Linked DNA regions of Homo sapiens: all the other regions are linked to region 3. Evidence: fine-mapped expression QTL. A gene starts in region 3. Each other region holds a variant in brackets. All regions are shown on one strand. Distances are between the middles of the regions. Region 1 overlaps SPATA6L (spermatogenesis associated 6 like). Region 2 overlaps SPATA6L (spermatogenesis associated 6 like). Region 3 holds the start of SLC1A1 (solute carrier family 1 member 1).

What was found.
Region 1: its variant is fine-mapped to the expression of SLC1A1 in blood mononuclear cells (TOPMed, PIP 0.95).
Region 2: its variant is fine-mapped to the expression of SLC1A1 in T cells (TOPMed, PIP above 0.99). The same link has a PIP of 0.9 or more in blood mononuclear cells.

The regions. Positions count from the first base shown.
Region 1 is chr9:4,608,529-4,616,712 of GRCh38, reverse strand. All of the region lies in intron 9 of SPATA6L (spermatogenesis associated 6 like), which reads left to right. Among named protein-coding and RNA genes, the nearest start is that of PLPP6, 50 kb to the left of the region's middle. The variant C/T (reference allele first, on the strand shown) is at 4,991.
Region 2 is chr9:4,596,022-4,604,205 of GRCh38, reverse strand. SPATA6L (spermatogenesis associated 6 like) reads left to right here. Exons shown (of 12, transcript NM_001353486.2): 11 at 1-27; 12 at 3,397-5,890. The coding sequence ends at 26. Among named protein-coding and RNA genes, the nearest start is that of PLPP6, 62 kb to the left of the region's middle. The variant A/G (reference allele first, on the strand shown) is at 3,665.
Region 3 is chr9:4,486,317-4,494,489 of GRCh38, reverse strand. It overlaps SLC1A1 (solute carrier family 1 member 1), which reads right to left and starts at 4,022. Exons shown (of 12, transcript NM_004170.6): 1 at 3,720-4,022. The coding sequence starts at 3,810. It also overlaps a transcript of GLIS3 not described here. RefSeq lists silencers at 3,795-4,224, 7,670-7,759 and an enhancer at 4,375-4,424.

The DNA of each region.
Region 1 (8,184 bases), 120 kb before region 3:
TCGGGAGGCTGAGGCAGGAGAATTGCTTGAACCCGGGAGGCGGAGGTTGGGGTGAGCTGAGATCGTGCCATTGCATTCCAGCCTGGGCAACAAGAGCGCAATTCCGTTTAAAACAAACAAACAAACAAAAAACTGGCTCTGGCACACAGAGACAAGTGGTCAGAGACACACTTACACCTCTCTATGCCTGGCCTCTGTCCCCTCCTGTCTTATGCTTTTGCCACCAGCCTGGAATTCAGCAGGCTGGCAAAGCACAGGAGGTCATCCTGGATTTAAAGACTTGTAGAGGATTGATTTTAAATGAAGAACGGAAAGAACTTTCAATTAACAGTGGTCAGGAGACATGGGCTCTAGCGCTCATGTGTCTCTAAGTGCTGGGTGATTTCACACAGCTACTCCACCTATTTTTTTAAATTAATTATTATTATTTTTTTTCGAGATGGGGTCTTGCTTTGTCACCCAGGCTGGAGTGCAGTGGCACAATCACAGCTTACTGCAGCCTTGACCTCCCCAACCCAAGCAATCCTCCTGCCTCAGCCTCCTGAGTAACTGGGACTGCAGGTGCGCACCGGCATGCCCGGCTAATTTTCATATTTTTATTTTTGTAAAGATGGGGTCTCACTGTGTTGCCCAGGCTCTTCTCAAACTCCTGGGCTCAAGCAATTGTCTTGGCCTCCCAAAGTGCTGGGTACAGGCATGAGCCACCGTGCCTGGCTTCAACCTTTTAAACCTCAGTTTCCTCATCTTTAAAATGGGTTTGATGATCAAAGATCCATCTGCATACAGCCACAAAGTGCTTCTCAGCCACCAGAACTGGGGAAAACCCGTGGTTTTTGTCTCTGTGCCTGGTATCTATAACACCTCCCAAACTCCTTAAAAGCAGTACAGCAAGCTTTTCTGAGAGACTGTATTGAGCATGCTGTTATTGGGCAACTGTTGGGGGCAATGGACACCATCATGACATGTCTCTGCTTTCCACTGGCTCACATACTAGACAGGAAGGCAGACATACCCCCTTGTCACTGAATATGAGATAGATTGTGGTAGGTACCTAACAGAAGTACAATCCAAATGCAGGGGAGAGACAGAGTGAGAGGAAATCAGTTACATCAGGAGAGAGACCTGAGAAGTCCTCTTTTCTCTTTAAATATGTGTTAGATGGTTTATGCATTCATTCAGCCAGCCTTTCCTGAGTGTCTTTATGCAGCAGGCCAGCAATTCTCAACTCTGGCCAACGGAAGAATTGCCTCATGTTTACTGAGTCAAAATCAACTGGGATTGGAATTGAGTATGTGGGCGGGGAGCACGTTAAATCTGTGGTTAAGACGGAAAGCAGGAATGATACTCAATCTGCTAGGCCAGCAATGGGAACACTAACATTTAAGACATTTCTCCTGATCTCTGAAAACTTGCAACCTAGCAGAGGATATAAAAAAAATAATAAAAAAGAAGTATGCAAAGAGCTTTCTACAAAGCAGCACTTTGTGAATAGTGTGGAACAAAAGTTACTGGAGTATAAAGAAGAAGGGTGGTACTTCTGGAATGTTTCATGGAGGAGGTGATGCTTTCATGTGGCCTTGAGGAGAGAAGATTGGTTTATGATGGGGTTCATAGAGGTGAGTGATGGCAGGTGGGAGGCAGGGGCACTGTCAGCTTCCAGCAGTTAGAGGAGTTTGGGAGAAAGTCAGTGCCAGGACTCAAAGGTTTGAGGGGGACCTTTGTTGGCTGACCTAAGGAGCTTGGGCTTTGCTTGGAAGGAGTGAGGAGCTCTGTGACATTAGTCACAGGAGTTGGCACAAGTGACTTTAGAAAGATGAGTCTTAGCTGCAGACCAGAGTTTTATTGGCCATCTCTGATGAGGCAGCAAATTCTTTGTGCCCAAAGTCTCTCTAAACTGGTAACTTGGGACCTAGTTGGACTATGAGTTTGTAAATAAGGCCATGATTATCAGCGGCAAATAATAACACAGCCACAGAAAGGCCATCCAGTTTGCCCATGGCTGTCCTGGTTTCAGTACCAAAAGTTTGCATCCTGGGAAACCCCTGAGTCCCAGGTAAACCAAGACAGCTGGTCACCTTCACACTAGAGAAGTGGCTCTGAAGATAATATTTTAAAAACAGTTCTTTTGAATGAGGGATGTGCCCTTCATATCCTTGCAGAACACATTGCCCGTTGGCTTTAGAGCGATCACTAGGGCAGATTCCTGGGACACTGGGGGTTGTCAGCACTGTGTCTCCACTCACTCAGTGTTCTTTTCATACCAGCAATATCAGGACCACTCTTTCTCTGTGTCCAGTTCACAAGGGTGCATGAGAATCCCTGTTGCTTTTCTGCTAACTTAATACTGAAGTCAGTAAGGATCAAGGTCATAAGGATGAGTTGGGAGACAAATTTTGGAATGAGAGTCAACCCAAGGTTTTAATGGACAAGGTAGAAAACACATTATAAGAGTGAACAATGGGAGTACTAAAGGAGGGAGAAACACTGCCAAGCCTGTTCCCTGTATCCACCATCTGAATAGCGTCATGCCCCTTCAGCACATCCTCTCTCTCCACATGACTCGAGGAGAAGGTAGATCCCATGGAGAAGGCTGTGGTAAAGGCACAGCGCTGCTCCCATCTGTTGACTCATCATTCTCTGAGATCTTCAAATGTAAAATAAATTGCATGTAACAATAATGGTAACAAATGAAAGAGTCGCTTTGGTATTGGTTACTCTAGACCTATGAAAAAGAATTTACAGTATCTAGCTGGTGGCTGTTTTTAAATGCTAGCTTCATTTATAGCTTCAACATATTTCTATTCCTTCCTCCTAAACATTCTTAGAGAAGGGCCAAGCGTGGTGGCTCACACCTGGAATCCCTGCACTTTGGGAAGCGAGGTGGGTGGATCACTTGAGGTCAGGAATTCAAGACCAGCCTGGCCAACAAGGCAAAACCCCGTCTCTACGAAAAATACAAAAATTCGCTGGGCTTGGTGGCTTATACCTGTAGTCTCAGCTACTTGGGAGGTTGAGGCAGGAGAATTGCTTGAACATAGGAGGCAGAGGTTGCAGTGAGCGGAGGTAGCGCCACTGCACTCCAGCATGGGCAACAGAATGAGACTCTGGGTCAAAAAAAAAAAGTTCTTAGAGAAGAATAGAAATAATGTTTGTAGTCTTAAACATGGGCAGTGCTTTAGGTGGTGCTTCCATTTACTATGAGTTGTTTTCTTGGGTTGGCAATGGATTTGTGTAGATCCATTCATACTGTTGGTCTTATCTCCCTGGAAAAACCAGTGGGACATGCTTGTCACAGAGAGAGCTGGAGTGGAGGCCTGGATGTGGGCCGGAACCAGCCAAGCAGAGGGGCAACTGCACAGGGAGGTCATTCATATGGTAGCCATAGTAACAACTGGATTTCCAGATGTTCCTGTCATTTCCAGTGTTTACCATACATTAATTAAAGAGAATCATTTTCTTTCTTTCTTTCTTTCTTTTTTTTTTTTGAGATAGAATCTTGCTATGTTACCCAGGCTGGAGTACAGTGGCCCCATCTCAGCTCACTACAACCTCCACCTCCCAGGTTCAAGCAATTTTCATGCCTCAGCCTCCTGGTATCTGGGACTACAGATGTACCACCACCACACCTGGCTAATTTTTTGTATTTTAGTAGAGATGGGGTTTCACTACTTTAGCCAGGCTGGTCTGGAACTCTTGGCCTCAAGAGATCCGCCCGCCTCAGCCTTCCAAAGTGCTGGGATTATAGGTGTGAGCCACTGCGCCTGGCCCCAAGTGGCTATAATTCTTTGGGTGTTTTTAGAAAACTGTATCTGTGCCTTTCATTATCAAATTGCTATGTACACTTTCAGCTTAGTTATACCTCAGACTTTAGGATTTGGTAACCATCCCCCTCCTGAATATTAATGGATGGATGAATGAATGAATGAATGAACGAGAGAATGAATTCAATCACTCAAGAAATATTTATTAGCTACTTACTGTGCTATTCAGTTCCTACTCTGCCCTGGGATGAGCTATTAAACAAAGAGTCTCAGCTCAATTTCACTCTAGGAGTAAAGACCGCCATTAACCAAATAATGACAAAATGTCCAGTGGTGCAAATGGTATTAATGAGGTATAGATAAATGAAACTGCAAGTCCGTATAACAGAGCAGCTGACCTCCTCTACAGGAGAGGGCTCAGAAAGGACTTTGCTGAGAACTCAACAATTGAACTGAACTCTGAAGGGTGGGTAGGAGTTAATAAGAGTAGTGAGCCCCTGGGGTTGGGAGGTAGAAGAGAGAACAGTGTTGCCAAATGCCTATGGAAGGTAGAAAATGCTCTATGTTTGGGGAACTGAAAGAGACTGTCAAACCTATGGTTCAGTTTGGAGTCTGGGTGGCCTAAAGTAAATGAGATATAAGATAAAGTCCTGGTGGTAGGAAACAACCAGGATTGGAGGCTGGGTGTAGTGGCTCACACCTGTAATCCCAGCACTTTGGGAGGCTGAGGCAGGAGGATCACTGAGTACAAAAGTTTGAGACCAGCCTGGACAGCATGGGGAGACCCTGTCTCTACAAAATATTTGAAAGTGAGCTCTGCATGGTGGTGCATACCTGTAGTCCCAGCTCTTTGGGAGATTGAGGTGGAAGGATCCCTTGAGCCCAGGAGTTCGAGACCAGCCTGGGTAGCAAGACCCTATCTCTTAAGGAAAAAAAAAAATAGCCAGGCATGGCAACATGTACCTAGTTGGTCCTCTCTACCTGGGAGGCTGAAGTTGGAGGATTGCTTGAGTCCAAGAGTTCAAGGTTGCAGTGAGCTATGATCATGCAGTTGTACGTTAGCCTGGGTGATAATCTCTCCGTGAAACAACAACTACTGGGATTAAATTTTATATTAAAATTTTTTGGATTAAAAATTTTTTTTTCTTTTATTATTATACTTTAAGTTTTAGGGTACATGTGCACATTGTGCAGGTTAGTTACATATGTATACATGTGCCACGCTGGTG[C/T]GCTGCACCCACTAACTCGTCATCTAGCATTAGGTGTATCTCCCACTGCTATCCCTCCCCCCTCCCCCCACCCCACAACAGTCCCCAGAGTGTGATGTTCCCCTTCCTGTGTCCATGTGATCTCATTGTTCAATTCCCACCTATGAGTGAGAATATGCGGTGTTTGGTTTTTTGTTCTTGCGATAGTTTACTGAGAATGGTGATTTCCAATTTCATCCGTGTCCCTACAAAGGACATGAACTCATCATTTTTTATGGCTGCATAGTATTCCGTGGTATATATGTGCCACATTTTCTTAATCCAGTCTATCATTCTTGGACATTTGGGTTGGTTCCGAGTCTTTGCTATTGTGAGTAGTGCCGCAATAAACATAGGTGTGCATGTGTCTTTATAGCAGCATGATTTATAGTCCTTTGGGTATATACCCAGTAATGGGATGGCTGGGTCAAATGGTATTTCTAGTTCTAGATCCCTGAGGAATCGCCACACTGACTTCCACAATGGTTGAACTAGTTTACAGTCCCACCAACAGTGTAAAAGTGTTCCTATTTCTCCACATCCTCTCTAGCACCTGTTGTTTCCTGACTTTTTAATGATTGCCATTCTAACTGGTGTGAGATGGTATCTCAATGTGGTTTTGATTTGCATTTCTCTGATGGCCAGTGATGATGAGCATTTTTTCATGTGTTTTTTGGCTGCATAAATGTCTTCTTTTGAGAAGTGTCTGTTCATGTCCTTTGCCCACTTTTTGATGGGGTTGTTTGTTTTTTTCTTGTAAATTTGTTTGAGTTCATTGTAGATTCTGGATATTAGCCCTTTGTCAGATGAGTAGGTTGCAAAAATTTTCTCCCATTTTGTAGGTTGCCTGTTCACTCTGATGGTAGTTTCTTTTGCTGTGCAGAAGCTGTTTAGTTGAATTAGATCCCATTTGTCAATTTTGGCTTTTGTTGCCATTGCTTTTGGTGTTTTAGACATGAAGTCCTTGCCCATGCCTATGTCCTGAATGGTATTGCCTAGGTTTTCTTCTAGGGTTTTTATGGTTTTAGGTCTAACATTTAATTCTTTAATCCATCTGGAATTGATTTTTGTATAAGGTGTAAGGAAGGGATCCAGTTTCAGCTTTCTACATATGGCTAGCCAGTTTTCCCAGCACCATTTATTAAATAGGGAATCCTTTCCCCATTGCTTGTTTTTCTCAGGTTTGTCAAAGATCAGATAGTTGTAGATATGCGGCATTATTTCTGAGGGCTCTGTTCTGTTCCATTGATCTATATCTCTGTTTTGGTACCAGTACCATGCTGTTTTGGTTACTGTAGCCTTGTAGTATAGTTTGAAGTCAGGTAGTGTGATGCCTCCAGCTTTGTTCTTTTGGCTTAGGATTGACTTGGCGATGCGGGCTGTTTTTTGGTTCCATATGAACTTTAAAGTAGTTTTTTCCAATTCTGTGAAGAAAGTCATTGGTAGCTTGATGGGGATGGCATTGAATCTGTAAATTACCTTGGGCAGTATGGCCATTTTCACGATATTGAGTCTTCCTACCCATGAGCATGGAATGTTCTTCCATTTGTTTGTATCCTCTTTTATTTCATTGAGCAGTGGTTTATACTTCTCCTTGAAGAGGTCCTTCACATCCCTTGTAAGTTGGATTCCTAGGTATTTTATTCTCTTTGAAGCAATTGTGAATGGGAGTTCACTCATGATTTGGCTCTCTGTTTGTCTGTTGTTGGTGTATAAGAATACTTGTGATTTTTGTACATTGATTTTGTATCCTGAGACTTTGCTGAAGTTGCTTATCAGCTTAAGGAGATTTTGGGCTGAGACAATGGGGTTTTCTGCACACACAATCATGTCGTCTGCAAACAGGGACAATTTGACTTCTTCTTTTCCCAATTGAATACCCTTTATTTCCTTCTCCTGCCTAATTGCCCTGGCCAGAACTTCCAACACTATGTTGAATAGGAGTGGTGAGAGAGGGCATCCCTGTCTTGTGCCAGTTTTCAAAGGGAATGCTTCCAGTTTTTGCCCATTCAGTATGATATTGGCTTTGGGTTTGTCACAGATAGCTCTTATTATTTTGAAATACGTCCCATCAATACCTAATTTATTGAGAGTTTTTAGCATGAAGTGTTGTTGAATTTTGTCAAAGGCCTTTTCTGCATCTATTGAGATAATCATGTGGTTTTTGTCTTTGGTTCTGTTTATATGCTGGATTACATTTATTGATTTGCGTATATTGAACTAGCCTTGCATCCCAGGGATGAAGCCCACTTGATCATGGTGGTTAAGCTTTTTGATGTGCTGCTGGATTCGTTTTGCCAGTATTTTTTGGGGAATTTTGCATCAATGTTCATCAAGGATATTGGTCTAAAATTCTCTTTTTTGGTTGTGTCTCTGCCAGGCTTTGGTATCAGAATGATGCTGGCCTCATAAAATGAGTTAGGGAGGATTCCCTCTTTTTCTATTGATTGGAATAGTTTCAGAAGGAATGGTACCAGTTCCTCCTTGTACCTCTGGTAGAATTCGGCTGTGAATCCATCTGGTCGTGGACTCTTTTTGGTTGGTAAGCTATTGATTATTGCCACAATTTCAGATCCTGTTATTGGTCTATTCAGAGATTCAACTTCTTCCTGGTTTAGTCTTGGGAGAGCGTATGTGTCGAGGAATTTATCCATTTCTTCTAGATTTTGTAGTTTATTTGCGTAGAGGTGTTTGTAGTATTCTCTGATGGTAGTTTGTATTTCTGTGGGATCGGTGGTGATATCCCCTTTATCATTTTATATTGCGTCTATTTGATTCTTCTCTCTTTTTTTCTTTATTAGTCTTGCTAGTGGTCTATCTATTTTGTTGATCCTTTCAAAAAACCAGATCCTGGATTCATTAATTTTTTGAAGGGTTTTTTGTGTCTCTATTTCCTTCAGTTCTGCTCTGATTTTAGTTATTTCTTGCCTTCTGCTAGCTTTTGGATGTGTTTGCTCTTGCTTTTCTAGTTCTTTTAATTGTGATGTTAGAGTGTCAATTTTGGATCTTTCCTGCTTTCTCTTGTGGGCATTTAGTGCTATAAATTTCCCTCTACACACTGCTTTGAATGTATCCCAGAGATTCTGGTATGTTGTGTCTTTGTTCTCGTTGGTTTCAAAGAACATCTTTATTTCTGCCTTCATTTCGTTATGTACCCAGTAGTCATTCAGGAGCAG
Region 2 (8,184 bases), 110 kb before region 3:
CACTGCATGAACAGAGATATTTTTAAGGTACTGTCTTATGTAAGTAAGCAGCTTAAGTGCTTCTCCTTATCTTGGTTTGCTAAAAGAATTTCAGTTTCCTCCTATCAATATGAAGTAACTAGAAAGTGTGGAGGACAGGAGACTTGGAGGAGACCTGAGAACTGCGTTCTTCCCTTGCTCTGTATGATAACTGCAGTGCACGTGCCTTCCAGCTCTCTTGCTTCCTCTTGTAATCATCTCCCCTGCCCGCAACATCACCCTTTATCTAATAGACTTTCCGGCCTTCTTTCAGCTTCTTGAACACGGAGCTTTTTCCTGCCATGGGGTCTCTGCACATGTTGTTTTCTCCATCTGGAATATGTCTTCCTGACTCTGCCTGGATAACTTCTATTTGTCCTTCCAGGCTTATGATTTTCTATGACACGACACTCCCTCTCTCTGTGATGTGTACCCTTTAGTACACAGCATTTTTCCTTCATAAATTATGACACAATTTCTTATTATATTTTTATCTGGGCTGATTGTTTAAAATCTGTCTCTTCTACTGGAGTGAAACCTTATGAGATCAGAGAATCTGTCTCTGTTGTTCACTGCTTTATACGCAGTATTTAGTGCCATACAATGGAATCACATTTAACTTTGCAAACACATGTACTAGGTGTGTGCACTGAACAAGAACCTGCCTACCCATCTCCACCCTGCTGCTGTCTCTGTATCACCTGACCCTCCACAATGGTTGCTGCTCAGTAAAGAGGGTTTTTTTTGTTTTTGTTTTTGTTTTGACATGGAGCTCTGTCACCCAGGCTAGAGTGCAATGGCGCAATCTTGGTTCACTGCAACCTCCACCCCCCAGGTTCAAGTGATTCTCCTGCCTCAGCCTCCTGAGTAGCTGGGATTACAGGTGTGCACAACCACACCCAGCTAATTTTTGTATTTTTAGTAGAGATGGGGTTTCACCATGTTGGTCAGCCTGGTCTCAAACTCCTGACCTCGTGATCTGCCTGCCTCAGCCTCCCAAAGTGCTGGTATTACAGGCGTGAGCCACCGTGCCCGGTCGCAGTAAAGAGTTTTTATAAATGCATGTTGAATATGCATTGATTATGAATGCATGTAACAAGGCAACTCTAGAATTCAGATCTGTGGCAAGTAGTTAGCCACATTGTGGGACATCATCGTTTCTCATATATTCTTTTCTTTTCCATTCAAGCCCAGAATAATAATCGCTCTTCCTTATGACATGCGGCCTGAGTGCTGAGACTAGTACACATACTTCACATGTATTAAACAAATTCATATCTAATTCTCAGGACAACCCAATGAGATAGGTACTATCATTAGTTCCATCTTACAGATAGGAAAACTGAGGCATAGGTTAGGTCCCTTGCTCAAGGTGACATGGCTAGTGAATGGTGGAGCTTTATTCTCTTAACCACTACATTCTATTGCATTTTCAAAGCTAGAGTGTAATCTTACATGGAAATCCATGTCTCCCCATGTGTGAAGGAGGGCCCTTTGGAACCCAAGCAGAGTTCGTGGGCATTGGCCTTTGGAAGGCTCCCACTAGGATCCTATAGCTTTGTCCTGTATAGTCCTCATGTCAGCAGGATCAGAATAATTATGCGTCTTTCTAAACAATAAAGGAGTGTGGGATGACCTGCTAAGTTTTCACTGTAGTCAGGCTCCTGAAAGTCTGTTTTGAGGGTCATGCATGCTTTACAGAACAAGTTGGCTTGCCTTAGGAATGGCCAGGGCTCCCCACCTTTAGCACAGAGGAATGTGCAGGACAGCTCAGTAATGGCCCATTCTGGAGGCTTCTACCTTAGAACGTTCTGCTTGCTAGATTAAAGGACGGATTCTGGGCCATTTACTCTCTGGTTACCAAAATAATTGCCGTCTAGGCAATTATTTAGGTGGTTATACGGAACATAGCCCACATGATTATCAAATGCCAAATTACATTGAATTTCAACATGGGTAATATCAAGTTACATAGAGCCCTGAACCAGCTGATATGTGGACATTGATGTGGGGGGATAGAGAGAAGGTAAGAAAAGAAAAAAAAAAAACGTCAATTCTTTCTTGGAAAATAGGTTTCCCACACAACAGGAATTCCCACCCAGTAGTTTGGCATACGCTTAGAATACCTTCTCTGGAAGTCTCCATACCATCCTCCCTGACCCCGCTTCTTGAGTCATGGATTCCTGGAGAGGCTGGGATCCTGGAGGGTCATTTTAGTGAAGCTTTAGTGATTGTGAAAAACCCAAGTGACTCTGGCTAGTCTTAAGCAAACGGGGCATTTATTTGAAAGATGCTGAGCATCCATCTCAGTGAGTCCAGGAAAGATCCAAACAGGCAAGATCAAATAGCTAGAACAGGACAGCCAGAGCCACTCCTGTGGGTTGGGAGGACAGACCCCAGGCAGGAGGCATCCCCCACACACAACCCAGTGGCTCCCACTACGTGTCCCAGTCCCGGCTTTTCTTGAGGACTCTCTTCTAATGGCAGCACCAATTCCTGTCCCTCCCCTTCTCCATATCTGTTTCACTGCCAGGTCCTGGCTCCCCAGCGATCTCGAGATCTCAGGGAGATGAAAAAGTAGATTCTTACCACAAAAAGGTCAGGGATTCTTGAGCCAAAAACAATGAGTCCCATTGTCTGACCACGTAGAGGGAGAGAATGGGTGGAAGAAATGGGTTGAAGGGGTTGGAATACATCTATTTCTGGATCTTTTGGGACTTGGTACTTTTGGTATAAACAGAGTATCCCTTGTATATTTAAAATTGGTGAATTTTACCACACAAAAACCAAACATCCAAAAAACCAAACAAAAAAAAAAACCTCCCGTAAAGAAACCCCTCAGATTATCCCTAGTTCTCTTGGAAGGCATAATTGCCGTGAAATCCCGGCCCCCAGTGTGCAGTGCCAAATTACAGAGCAAGACTCCATCAAAAAGAAAGGAAAGAAAGGAAGAAAGAAGGGAGTGAGGGAGGGAAGGAAGGAAGGGAGGAAGGAGGGAAGGGAAGGAAGGAAGGAAATTTGTTCAGTAGAATATAGTTAATTGGAACACGTTTAACAGCTCAACTGAATAACACCTATTTTGGCACATTTACTATGTAGCAATGCTAACTCTTCACTATAATAGTAAGAGGTAGATACTCTGTCATCATCCTGATATTTTACAAAGACGTCAAGTAAATTGTCCAAGGTCACACAGATGCTCACTGGGTTATTCTGTTGTGGGAATCTGGGGAAAAAGCTCAGAGACTAAGTGATCCCAAGGCATAGCTACATGCCAAGATTGGGGTAGTATGACATTATCTTTTTCTCCTTACTTGTATTGATTGTTTGCCTTTTTCTCAATACCACATGTAGAATGTGATGTTTCAAATTTTGCAGGGGAAATTAATGAAAGCTTAAGGAGAATCATGAAGAGCTCACTCACTGAGACAATTGAAGCATCCTTAAAGAAATGAACACTTTTTGTTGTCTGTGTTGAGTCACTGATGTCTAATCCCCTTTAAACCAAACCCTGTACTCAGTCTTTTGTGCCCAGGTAAGAGTTGTTGATTAAAGTGTTTGCTGTTTGGGGGCTAACATTTTCTTGTCAAGCTGGAAAATTTGTGTTTTTGCATGTTTGTTTTGAACATGAAAGAGAAAGCGCTGT[A/G]GTTGGGTGGCAGGTGCTTATCTGAACACTTCCCCTCTCTCTCTCTCTGGCTCTCTCTGGCTCTCTCTGTCTCTCTCTCTCAAATTAATTATATATGAGCTAGAGGAAGTTGCTATTCACAGGAATAACCTGATAAATCCTCCAGGAAAGACTATCAACCTGACTTTCTCTTTTCGGTAGATCCGTTTTTGTTGTTGTTTGTTTATTTCTTAGTGTTAGGCTTGATTTACGTGAAGTCCACTAAAAACCTTGGAAAAGAGAGCATTACGTCTGGGTAGTTCAGATCTTGTTTTAGATGTTGAATGTCTGTGATAAATTTGTAAGAGGAGGCTGGCTCCTCTGGAGCGTAGTTTAAACTGCTCCTTCTGTTTCCTACTCCTTCGTTCCAGCAATTCTTTGTAAATTTAGATGAGGAACAAAACCTTCCTCAAATATTTCTCCAAAAGAACTACACATTAAGTAAATAGGTTCTACAGATAGGACTGCCAATGCCAGGTTTTAAAGTTAGTTAGGAAGGTGCATCTATGAAATGCTTACACAGTGTGAGGGAGCAGGAATAGGAAGGGGCTGGGATAAAGGGAGACTAGAGGCACATTTGTCTTCATTGATACAGACCCAGAGAAGAGGGGCCTGAAAATGGAAACTTATTTCCCTCCTTCATAGTGTAAGCATAGCATTTTCCTCTACCAGCCCTACTATAGTGTGAATGTTTGTGTCCCCTCAACATTTGTATGTTGAAATCCTAACCTCTAAGGAAATGGGGCCTTTTGGGAGGTGATGAGGTTGTGAGGGTGGACCCCTCATAAATGAGATTAGTGCCCTATAAATAGGCTCAAGGGAGCTCGTTTGCCCCTTCCACTGGCGAGGAGACAGCGAGAAGGCGCCATCTCTGACCCAGGAAGAGGGCCCTCACCAGATTCTGCATCTGCCAACATTCTGATCTTGGACTTCCCAGCTTCCAGAACTGTGAGAAATGAATTCCTGTAGTTTGTAAGCTACCCAGTTTATGACATTTTGTTATAGCAGCCTGAATAGAGTAAGACACTACCCTAAAACTTGTTCAGTTTTTAGAAGATTCAGTGAGAGCCAAGTTTTCTTTTCTCACTGTAATCATAGGGATTGGTTCATTAGGTAAATTAAGAAAATGAAATTAAAAATTAAAACAGAAAAGGAACTCCAAAAACAAAAACAACAAAACAAAATTCATTTATCCTCTTCTTAGAATTTCAGCCAAATAAAGGTATATCCAAGTTGAACCTCCCAATCTAAAAATCTGAAATCTGAAATGCTCCAAAATCCAAAACTTTTTGAGCACCAATATAACACCATAAGTGAAAAATTCCACATCTGACTGCATGTGGCAGGGTGCAGTCAAATGCATTCGAAACTTTGTTTCATGCTCCAAATTATTTAAAATCATGTATAAAATTACCTTCAGGCTACCTGTATAAAGTGTATATAAAACGTAAATGAATTTCGTGTTTAGACTTGGGTCCTATCCCCTATCCTGAAGATACTTCATTGTGTTTATGTAAATATTCCAAAATACAAAAACAAAAACCAAAACCCAAGTTTAAAATACTTCTGGTCAGTCCCAAGCACTGAAGATAAGGGAGACTCAACCTGTATCACAACCAGCATTCCACCTTGGCAAGGCCAACAGCAAGCTTAAATTACATATGCTAATATGTTCTCAGTCTCTCTGAAACTATGGTTGTCAATTTGTTGTTTTGATGTTACCTCTAAGTAGTCATCAAAAGTAAGAAAATATTGTGTTACATTAAGGTTACGCTATAAGTCTCAGGAGAGGGCTGCTTACGTAAGCAGCTAAAGGAAAGCAGCACTAATGAATTGGTATCCCATTTCAGTTATTGTTAAAATATACACCATGACATTCAATATTCAGTGTTTTTTGAAATGGTTTAAGCATAACTCTTTAATAAGATCTTAAATGCCCATTCTTATTTAAAGTCATTTTTGGTTTTCACACTAAATTACGCTTTTTTTCCCTTTACTTTTGCATCTATTAACTCTATTCCTTAAATTATTATTATTTTTACTTTTGTTTCTCAAGGAGTTATCTCAATTTTGAGGAATCATGCTGGGGCAAGGATTGCAGTTGAAGTATTTTGCTTTTGGAGTGTATAATAGTATGAATAATTTTGTGATGTTTTGGGGTTTGGATTACTTTGGGAAGATCTGTGTCATTAAACATCATAAAAAGAATTCCCATCTGTCTTGCTTCAGTTTATAATTCCTTTCTTGATTTTTATGGTTGCAGATCTGTCAAAGCCTGGAGCATATTTTATGGGCATGTTTCATGGGGTCTTGGTTTGCAGAGGCTCCTAAGAAAATCTCCTTTGTGGAACCTAGGCCCTCCAAACAAAAGCTGCTGTACAATGAGGCCAGTTCTCTGTGGTCACCTGACTGACCCAAAGTTAGCTGAAGCCTGTAGGCCATGAATTATAAAAGAGATTTTTAAAAAATGAGAGTGCAAATGATATGTTTGACATAAAAGAGGTGGCGGGTTTTAGGTGTAATTTGAGAAGACTGATGGGTATGTGTGTGAGTTCAGCCCTAGCACCCAAATGCCAGGCTACTCTCAGTATAGCCAGTACTCCCCTGAGTTGGTCCATCAAAGGAGCCCGCTGGGCTCTCTGGAGGGCAGCCTGAGGAACAGGATATGCTCTGTAGTCCATGCTGTGACCAGAGAACCCACTAGTACCACCGGATGGGACTGCTGTCTTTCTCTGGTTAGGGGACCCCTCCTAGCACTACTTAGCGGACCTGCAGGTCTTAGGGAGACCTCTTCTCTCTTCCCTTGTGCTGGGAACCCTGCCAACAGTGATGAGAGCCCCAACCCTTTGCTCCTTTGGCCTGGGAGCCCCATCCTCCACACTGAATCTAGGGGCACCAAATTATGGCAATGAAGTTACTTTGTTTATCAAAGGAAAGAACCTATGCTTAATTTCACATAGGGAATTTGGTCAAAACAGGGTCATGTCTAGGACAGGAGCTTTTACATGGTGCAGATGGGTCCTTTTCTTGATGGCTGAGTTGATGGAGCTTCTTCAACAAAATGAGGAGTTTCTAGTCCAAAATTTTTCCTTGGGATTCTGCGTCTTTTAGAGTGATCCATTAGCTCCGCCCACCTCACCCCCCACGCCCCACCGTGTGTGTGTGTGTGTGTGTGTGTGTGTGTGTGTGTGTGTGTGTGTGTGTATTTTGTTTTCTTTTTTTATATATATAAAAAATAGAGAAGGAGTCTCCCTATATTGACCAGGCTGGTCTTGAACTCCTGGCCTCAAGTGATCTGCCGCCTCGGCCTCCCAAAATGCTAGGCTTACAGGTATGAGCCACTGCGCCCCTCCGAGTACCTGGATTTAAATCCTAGTTCTGCCATTTACAGGCTGAGTGCCTTGGACAGATAATTTAACCTCTTTGTGTCTCAATGTCCTTATGTATAATATGGAGGTAATAATAGTATCTGTCTAATAATGTTATTGTTGGTAGATAATACATTTAAAGTACATTAAATCAGTGCCTGGCACAAAATGAGCACTCAGTGAGCATTAGCTATTCTTATTCTCATCTCATTTAATTTTTTGAGGAAAGCATTGCTCCCCCTATTTCTTGCTAAGGACACTGAGGCTCAGAAAAGCAAGCGTCAGAGCCAGTTTGCAAACCCTGCTCTGTCTTGTTTCCAAACCTCAGGTTCTCTGTACCACTTCCTGTCACCCCTTTGCTGCCACCTGGTTGGCCCTGAGGCATCACAGATAATTCAACTTAAAGGGTTTGAAAAACATGAACTCAGAACATTTCAGAATAACAGAGCAACTAAGGTCTCTTGACAGAAGTTGGAACAATTAACCACTTCTTGTTTAGGCCAACAAGAGAGGCTTTCTGCTCGTATTTCCTGTCATTGAAATGTTATGTTTGTAAACGGCATTTTTAGGAAGTCCCCTCCTCCCCACCACCCCCAAATAAACTTTCCTGTTCCTTTTTCTCCAGGAACGGACACTCACTGAAATTGGAATTTTGAACTGAGATAAACATCATACTTGTTTTATTGGGATGACTTCCAGGAACAGACCGTAGGCAGTGGCAGTAGGTGTTATTGCTGGAAGCGTTGCATTCATGGTGGGAACTCTTCATTATGAAAGCTCATTTGTTGTTGCTTAAGGGATAGGATGACGTCCTTTGTTCACTGGGTCTCCTCCCAGCCCTGCAGTTAACAAAATTGATCCCACAGCCTCGCATGGACCCACTCAACTTGTATTTGTTAAACTCCTTCTGTGTGCTCAGTATTGCGCAGGACCCTGTGGGGTCGGGAGGGGTCACACTAAGGGGTGTAAAATTCAACCCGTGCCCTCTTGAAGTTTCCATACTTACTGGGGCAATGAGACCTTAAACGAGATATTTCAAGTGTGATTCCCAAAAGGTGTTGCAAACTCGGATGTCTTTAGGACCAGGCAGGATTTGTGACTGTCAGAAGCAGTTGAGTTTGAAATAATGGTGAG
Region 3 (8,173 bases):
ATAGGCGGGACACTAAGCAGGACACAGAAAGAGACATACTATGAGAGAATTTATTTCATAAGAAAATATTAATTTTCTCATAATCAAATTATTCAGATTTACCTTAAAATAACAACTATTGAGTGCTGAATATATGCCAGCCACACAACTGAGTATCTTTCACACCTCTAATAACAAACGAAGTAATAAGTAATATCTCCAATTTCCAGATGAGGAAATTGAGGCTTGTAGGGAAATACACAGTTTGCCTGCATGATAGAGCTTGATAGTACCAGAATTCAAATCCCAAGGACTCTTCACTCCAGGCTCTGTGCTCATTCTACCATTCTATGGAAGCAGAGAATAAGCCTATAAGAATTGTAATGAAAGCCGTGAAAGTGTTTCTAGTGGTATTTTAGCAGAGGATTTTCCTGTGAAAATCCAAGATACTATTTTCAGGACCATGTAGGGTGTCGCAGAAATTTAAAAAGATGGTCACCTAACTATTGAATCCCTTCATCTTGTGAACAAGAATTTGAGAAATGTTTAGTTCTTAGCATTTCCTTGTCCATGAAAAGAGTGAACTTCCACACCTAATAAAGATGACCCTTATTACATTTCCCCTCATGTGCTGTATCTTGAAAAATCAGGCTTTAAGCTGGCTCATAAAAATCTTTGCCTCTTATTTCTATAATCAAATATTTCAAAGTATTAGGGCTACTGAATTATAGTAGTGACTGAACATTTCATTGCATTATTATTTCTTTAAATTATTTTTTTTAGAAATAGAGATGAGATCAGGCTGGTCTCAAACTCCTGAACTCACTCATTCCTCCTACCTTGGCCTTCCAAAGTCCTAGGATTACAAGTCTGAGCCACTGCACCTGGTCAGGGACCAAACATTTGAACGGCTATAATCAGAAGAAGATGTTTTGTCATGATAGTTAATAAATTTCACAGTTTTTTTTCTTCTTTAAGTTCCACATGCTGAAAAGTCCAAAAGGGAGGCTGCATTAGAGCTCTTGCGATTTTTCTGGATCAGTTAAGGCAGTTATAAAATAAGCTCTTACTATCATTATCTAGCAAGGGTTTATGAATAGACTCAGTGCCACTGTTATAAGTCACTGGAATTTCACTGTCAATTAAACAAATCAGCCCTTACAGACTACACAAACAAGTATGAGTTTCCACTCAGGCCCAGTACTCTGAAGAAAAAGGACAAGAAAAGGACCCCTGTTAATGGGCATATCGGGGGTGGTCTAGGTTTGAGACTTCTCAGACCAGAAGCAGGACTGCCCTTTGTTGCCATCTGAAGGAACAAATATCTAGGAAGATTTCAGCTGGGCACTTGATTTTTAAGTGGTGACTTTCCTTTCTGGAGAAAAGTACTCAAACTAAGCTCTTGGGGCTCACAGACATTAAAATTGGAGGAAAGTGCCCATCTGAGACCAAAGGCCATGTCTGCAAAATGAGCATGTACTTCTTCTTATTCACGCAACTGATTCCAAAGGCCAGGGAACAATTGCTTAAAACCTTCTCCAAACCAGTCTCCAGTGAATCGCATGCTGACGAGTGGTGTGCAACACTTGGGTAGCAAGTGAGTATCTCTGGAGAGCCCCATGCTGAAAAGGCAGGATAACTCCACTTCCACAGGGAATCAGGAGGGAGACTCAAGCCAATGTTTATCCTGCAAAGTCTTTTTTTTTTTTCTTTTTAGACAAGGTCTCATTCTTGTTGCCCAGGCTGGAGTGCAGAGTCACGATCACGGCTCACTGCAGCCTCGACCTCCCTGGGCTCAGGTGATCCTCCCACCTCAGTCTCCTGAGTAGCTAGGACTACAGATGTGCACCACCACGCTAATTTTTGTACTTTTTTGTAGAGATGGCATTTTGCCATGTTGCCCAGGCTGGTCTCCAACTCCTGGGCTCAAGCAATCCTCCTTCCTTGGCCTCCCAAAATATTGGGATTATAGGTGTGAGTCACCGTGCCTGGCCCTCTAAAAGTCCTTTTCCTTTTTTTTTTTTTTTTTTTGGTGGATTCTTGCTCTGTCACCCAGGCGGGAGTGCAGTGGCACAATCTTGGCTGACTTCAACCTCTGCCTTCTGGGTTCAAGCAATTCTCCTGCCTCAGCCTCCCGAGTAACTGGGGTTATAGGCATGAGCCACCTTGCCCTGGCATCTCTCAGTCTTCAAAAAGAGATTTAACAATTAATCCTCGACTCTTATCACTAGGAAAACAAACAAGGCCATCTCTTCTCTTTGGCCTAAAGGAAATCAAGTCGTTCTTTGTAGCGTATGCTATTTAAATATGGTAGAGTAGGATAAACTTTCCCTTAAAAATGTTCAAAACCGAAAAAAAAAAGTTCCAAAACCACTTGGCACTTCTTGGGGGAAATAGTCAAGATTTGCTTCTGTACTTCTCTCCTTTCCTCCTACAAATAGCCTCTGCTAGGGCCATTCCAGGATGTTATTTATTTACTAGAAACCTGACTTTCCTTTCCCCAAGGTTCTGGAGAATCCAATCTGACCCCAAGAATCCCATTAACTTCCAAAGGCCATTTCCATGCCCTATCCCCACCCTGAGGGGAGGGGGCGGTTCGGAGGAGAAGCAAGCAACACCATATATTCTGAGATTTAGGAGCAGCAGTTGGAGAGGAAGGTACCTGAGGTTGGGAGGAAACAAGCTGTCCCCACTTGCCTTTTCAGCAAACACAGCTGCAGTTTCCAAGGGGAAGGTGGAGCCTGCCGAGGAATCCACATTCCTCAGAGGGTGCAACAGCCCTCACCTGCTGAGGAGCTATCACTGGGAAGGCGACAGATATGGCGCTAATCCCAAGGAAGTGCATCCCCGGGCCGGAGCTAGAAACACACAACCTTGGTAAAAAATCAGAATCTAAATAGGAATAACTCATACCTCTGAGCAATGGCTCAGACATCCACCTGGTCCAGTGATCTGTGAGGGGTGGATCACTTAAATACACCCTTGTTTAAAAACAGGCAAGGATGGCTTAAACATTATCTTAAATACAAAAACAACGTGGAGAGCAAGGAAGGCAGGAGAAGAGACGGCTGAGTTCTCTTAGCTCTCTTCCCCGGTGACCTCCCGCGGGCCACAGTGGCACATCCCAGAATTCAGGCACGAATCTGGCAGCTTTTCAGAGCCCGGGTGCAGGCAGTCGGCGCTCGCCGCGTGGGAAGGCACCTTTCCACGCACTGCCCAGGATGAGCGGCGACAGCGTTCTCAGCCTCCCTCCCCTAAGGGTCCGGCCCATCCCGGAGGCCAGGGTGCCTCTTCCAATTCGACTGAGAACTGTAATCCACACTCAATCTCTGCCCGCGCAGCGAGGCTGGGGGTGTGGGGTGAGGAAGGTGGCGGTGATAGGGGGAGATACGGTGCGGGATTAACAAAGAAAAAAATCGAACCCTGTTTTCAAACGAGCAGAACCAAGAGCTACTTGCTTCCCTTTCTACCCCCAAGCCCCTTTGATCATTTTGGGTAGAGCAGGAACCAGCAGCTCAAGGAGCACTCAAATGGGAGTCCCAGAGGAGCTTTGTTCTTGGTGTGCAGTAATTAGAGCGCTTGGGGGAAAGCCCCCGCAGGGGGCCCGAGGCTAAGGCCGAGGGGGCATCGAGGGACCCTGCATGGAGTGCGCCAGCGCCAAGCCCACCCTCAGCCGCACGCGGCCTGGGCGCAGAGAGCGCGTGAGGGTGCGCGCATCGCCCACCCGCCGCGCCGCTCACCTAGCACCACCGCGGCCACGGTGGACAGCAACACCCAGTTATTCTTCAGGAAGCGCTTCCACTCGCATCCTTTCCTCGCCGGTTTCCCCATGGCTGTCGCCGCTATTGTGCGCTGGGCTCGGCCGTGCGCGCGTGGGCTGGGCGACCCGGGGACTGCTGGCTGCTCGGCGGCGCGGCGAGATGCGGGTGCACAGGGGAGAGGTGAGAGCCGGCCGCTGCAGTCGCCGCCGTCACCACCGCCGTTGCCGCCGCCACCCGGGATCGCGCACCGCGCCCGCCGCCCTGCCAGCCCGGTAGTTTTGCGTGGCAGGCGCGCCCGGCTCCTCCTGCTGCCGCCGCGCTCTGCGGCGCCTGGGCCAACCAGCGAGGAAGGAGGGAGGAGCGGCAGGCCCGGGAAGGAGGGTGGGTGCGTGCGTGGGACGCCCGGGGTCCCTAGGGAGCAGGCGTGGTAGGGCGCCCAGCGCTGCGGCAGGAGCTGGGGCGGCCTCTCCGGGAACCCTGAGTCCCGCCCCACAGCCTTCCACTGGAGTCTGTCTCGCTTTCCACGCCTCACTCATGCTAGGGCTTTGGGTTAAGGGTTTTCTTCTGTCCCTAACCCAGAGAGGCGGAGCCACTGCCCTCCTGGGCGCGGACTTCATCCTGCACGTCTCCCTCTCCGTTCTCCACACCAGCTATTTCCAGCGCCGGCACCTGCAGAACGGGTGCCCTTTCAAGTCGGGGGAAGCTGATCCTGCCTTGGGTCCCTCTTGCTCGGCTACTCAGGCTGGGATGTGCCAGCAGCCGCGAAAGCCTGAAGCTTCTGGGAGGAGAGAAAGGAGTCCTGGGGCAGAACATGGCTTTGGAAACTTTCACGCGGAGCCTCCAGTGCCCCCACAGGGATTATTCTCCTCTTCGAGTCGCTGGAGGTGATTTGTCTGTGGACACTGGGCTTGGGAGTGTTCCCTGCACAAGGAGATGGTGATTTCTCTTAGAACTTTACTTCTGCTCCTTGGGACTTGCTCTGTGACCACAGGCCCTGGAGCATGGAGGCTTGGGGCAGTGATTAGAACTGAGAACCGGACCCGGGAGCCGCTCTGGGGAGAAAGTGGGCGGTCCATCCCCTAAGGTCCAACGGATTGGAAAGGCAAACACAGGAGAAACTAGGTTAGTGGTGCCAAATATATTTGGTGTTGCTAAGTGAATTTCTGATGCTCTTCCATTTTTCTACCCAATTTTTTCACTCTCACGTATACAATCTCTTTCCCTCCCTTTACCAAATCAGTACCTCCGCAGCTGTAAGCGGTCTTCTTATCAGCGTTCCTAAAGTTAAGTGAGCCTGGAACCCTTTTTGCTATTGTAGAATCTACTCTGATTGTGGGTAGGGAGAATTTCCCCTACTAGATTTTCTGATGACTAAATCCCCACAATTAGAGCTTCATCCCTTTGGTGTAAATTGATACAAGCATCTTTTAAGCGATAATAGATTAAGATTTACAACCCTGTAGACTTTAGTATGAATGAGTTTATCAGCTCTTTATAGAAAGTAAACTTTGAGAGAAAGAAGGTTAGAGGGATTTTAAGGTCGTTGGGTGTCCGAGGAAGATCTGAAGAAATGTCAGAAGGGGACCCGGGTGCGGTGGCTCTTGCCTGTAATCTCAGGACTTTGGGAGTCCGAGGCGAGCGGATCACGAGGTCAGGAGATTGAGACCATCCTGGCTAACACAGTGAAACCCCGTCTCTGCTAAAAATACAAAAAAATTAGCCGGGCGTGGTGGCACGTGCCTGTAGTCGCAGCTACTTGGGAGGCTGAGGGAGGAGAATCGCTTGAACCTGGAAGGTGGAGATTGCAGTAAGCTGAGATCAAGCCACTGCGCTCCAGCCTAGGCGACAGAGCGAGACTGTCAAAAAAAAAGAAAAAAGAAAGAAAGAAGGAAGGAAATGTCAGAAGGGAAACTATCAAGAAAGGGAGAATAGTCCCGGGCGCGATGGCTCACACCTGTAATTCCAGCAATTTGGGAGGCCAAGGCAGGCGGATCACTTGAGGTCAAGAGTTCGAGACCAGCCTGGCCAACATGGGGAAATCCCGTCTACCAAAAATACAAAAATTAGCCGGGTTTAGGGCCATGCACCTGTAATCCCAGCTATTCGGGAGGCTGAGACAGGAGAATCACTTGAACCCAGGAGGTGGAGGTTGCGGTGAGCCGAGATCACGCTGCAGCACTCCTGCCTGGGCGACCGGAGGGAAACCCTGTCTCATAAAAAAAAAAGAGAGAGAGCGTGCGCGAGAGAACAGATTTGTCCCACAGTAAAAAAACAGCTGGAAAAAACGCAAATGTCCAACATAAATGGAATGGTAAATATATTATGGAACTGCCAAGCAACAGTACCTTATGCAGCCTACATAAAGGAAGTTTATGAAGTTTTTAACAGCATGGGATGGCACATGTTATAAATCTATATTTATAAATATAAAGGGAAGAAAGAAATACTAAAATTGCATGTACAATTTGATCACATGTGTGTAAAATAAACATATTGGCCAGGTGCAGTGGCTCACACCCGTAATCCCAGCACTTTGGGAAGCCGAGATGGTAGGACTGCTTAAGCCCAGGAGTTTAGGACCAGCCTGGACAACATAATTAGACCACTGTCTCTACAAAAACTAAACCGACCAACCAACCAACAAACAGACGAAATAAAACCATGTGCTTAGAAAAAAAGACCAGAAGAAATATGCCAAAATTTTAACAATGGTCATCTTTGCCTTCTATCTTTTATATTTCCAAAGTGTCTACCATAGAGCTGGGCGTGTTGGCTCACAATTATATTCCCAGCAGTTTGGGAGGCTGAGGCAGAAGGATCACTTGAGGCTAGGAGTTTGAGACCAACCTGGGCAACTTAGTGAAATCTTGATTCTACAAAACTTAATAATAATAATAATCTGGCCATGATGGCACATGCCTGTAGTCTCTGCTACTTGGGAGGCTGAGGCAAGAGGATAGTTTGAGCCCGGGAGTTCGAGGTTGCAGGGAGCTATAATTGTACCACTGTACTCCAGCCTGGGTGACAGAGCGAGACTCTATCTATTTAAAAAAAAAAAAAAGTGTTGACCATAAGCATACCCATGCTCATTACAGTTGTAGATAGGGCAGTATTTACAAAATAAACATTCCTGAGGGGAGAAAAAAGTGGAAGCATCTGAGGAACTATGTGTACATCACAACTTTCTGGGTTGTAATAAGACAATTACACTAGGGTTCTCGGGGTAAAGTATTTAGGCTTAAATCCCAGCACCACCACTTATCAGCTTGGTGACCTTGGGCACCTGGCTTAAATTTTTTATGTCTCAGTTTCTTCATCTGTAAAATGGGGGCATTAATTATCTTTACCTCATGGAGGTATTTTAATAATTTAATACAATAATCTGTGTGAAAGGCTTAGAACACTCCCTGGCACAAAACAAATATCACCACCAATTTTACTTGGAGTCAACCTGGACAGGCATCTCTTAACACCATCTTTTAACACCTGCCTGTCATTAACACACTCTGAACCCCTTCAGACCCACGAGAACTCTTGCTCATTGATCATCAGGAATTGCCCATCTCTACTAAAAATACAAAAATTAGCCAGGCGTGGTGGCGGGTGCCTGTAATCCCAGCTACTCGAGAGGCTGAGGCAGGAGAATCGCTTGAACCCAGTAGGTGGAGAATATGACAAAAGAAATATGTCAAAATTTTAACAATGGTCTTCTTTGCCTTCTACTTTTTGCATTTCCAAAGTGTCTACCATAGAGCCGGGAGTGTCGACTCACACCTATATTCCCAGCACTTTGGGAGGCTGAGGCAGAAGTATCACTTGAAGCCAGGAGTTTGAGACCAACCTGGGCAACTTAGTGAAATCTTGGCTCTACAAAACTTAAAAAAATAAATAAATAACCTGGGCATGATGGCACATGCCTGTAGTCCTCACTACTTGGGAGGCTGAGGCAAGAGGATGGCTTGAGCCCAGGAGTTTGAGGTTGCAGGGAGCTATGATTGCACCACTGCACTCCAGCCTGGGTGACAAGAGGCCTTACATCACCCATTGCACTTTCACACTGGGAGGACCAAGGCCCTTGGTCCCCTGAAGGTTTGCTTCAAAATCACTGACAGGCAGATTTATTAATAGGAGAAAAGGCATACCAATGTATTGAACGTATACACACGGGAGACTTCAAAATGAAGACCTAGCCTCCCAATGAGGTCCAGAAGTTTATATACTATCTGGAGGTTACAGAAAGAATGGGGGCTTGAATCCTGGTAAAACAGGTTTTGGGAGGTGAAGAGAAGAGGAATTGCTGAGGGGATTACTAGGGAGAATGAATGGATCTCTGAACAGAGATTAATGTGTGAATAGTTCTCTTTGATAGTGAAAGTGTTCAGGTGTGGTTACATTCTTGGTCTTACAGGGAGGGGAAGAACAAGCAATTACTT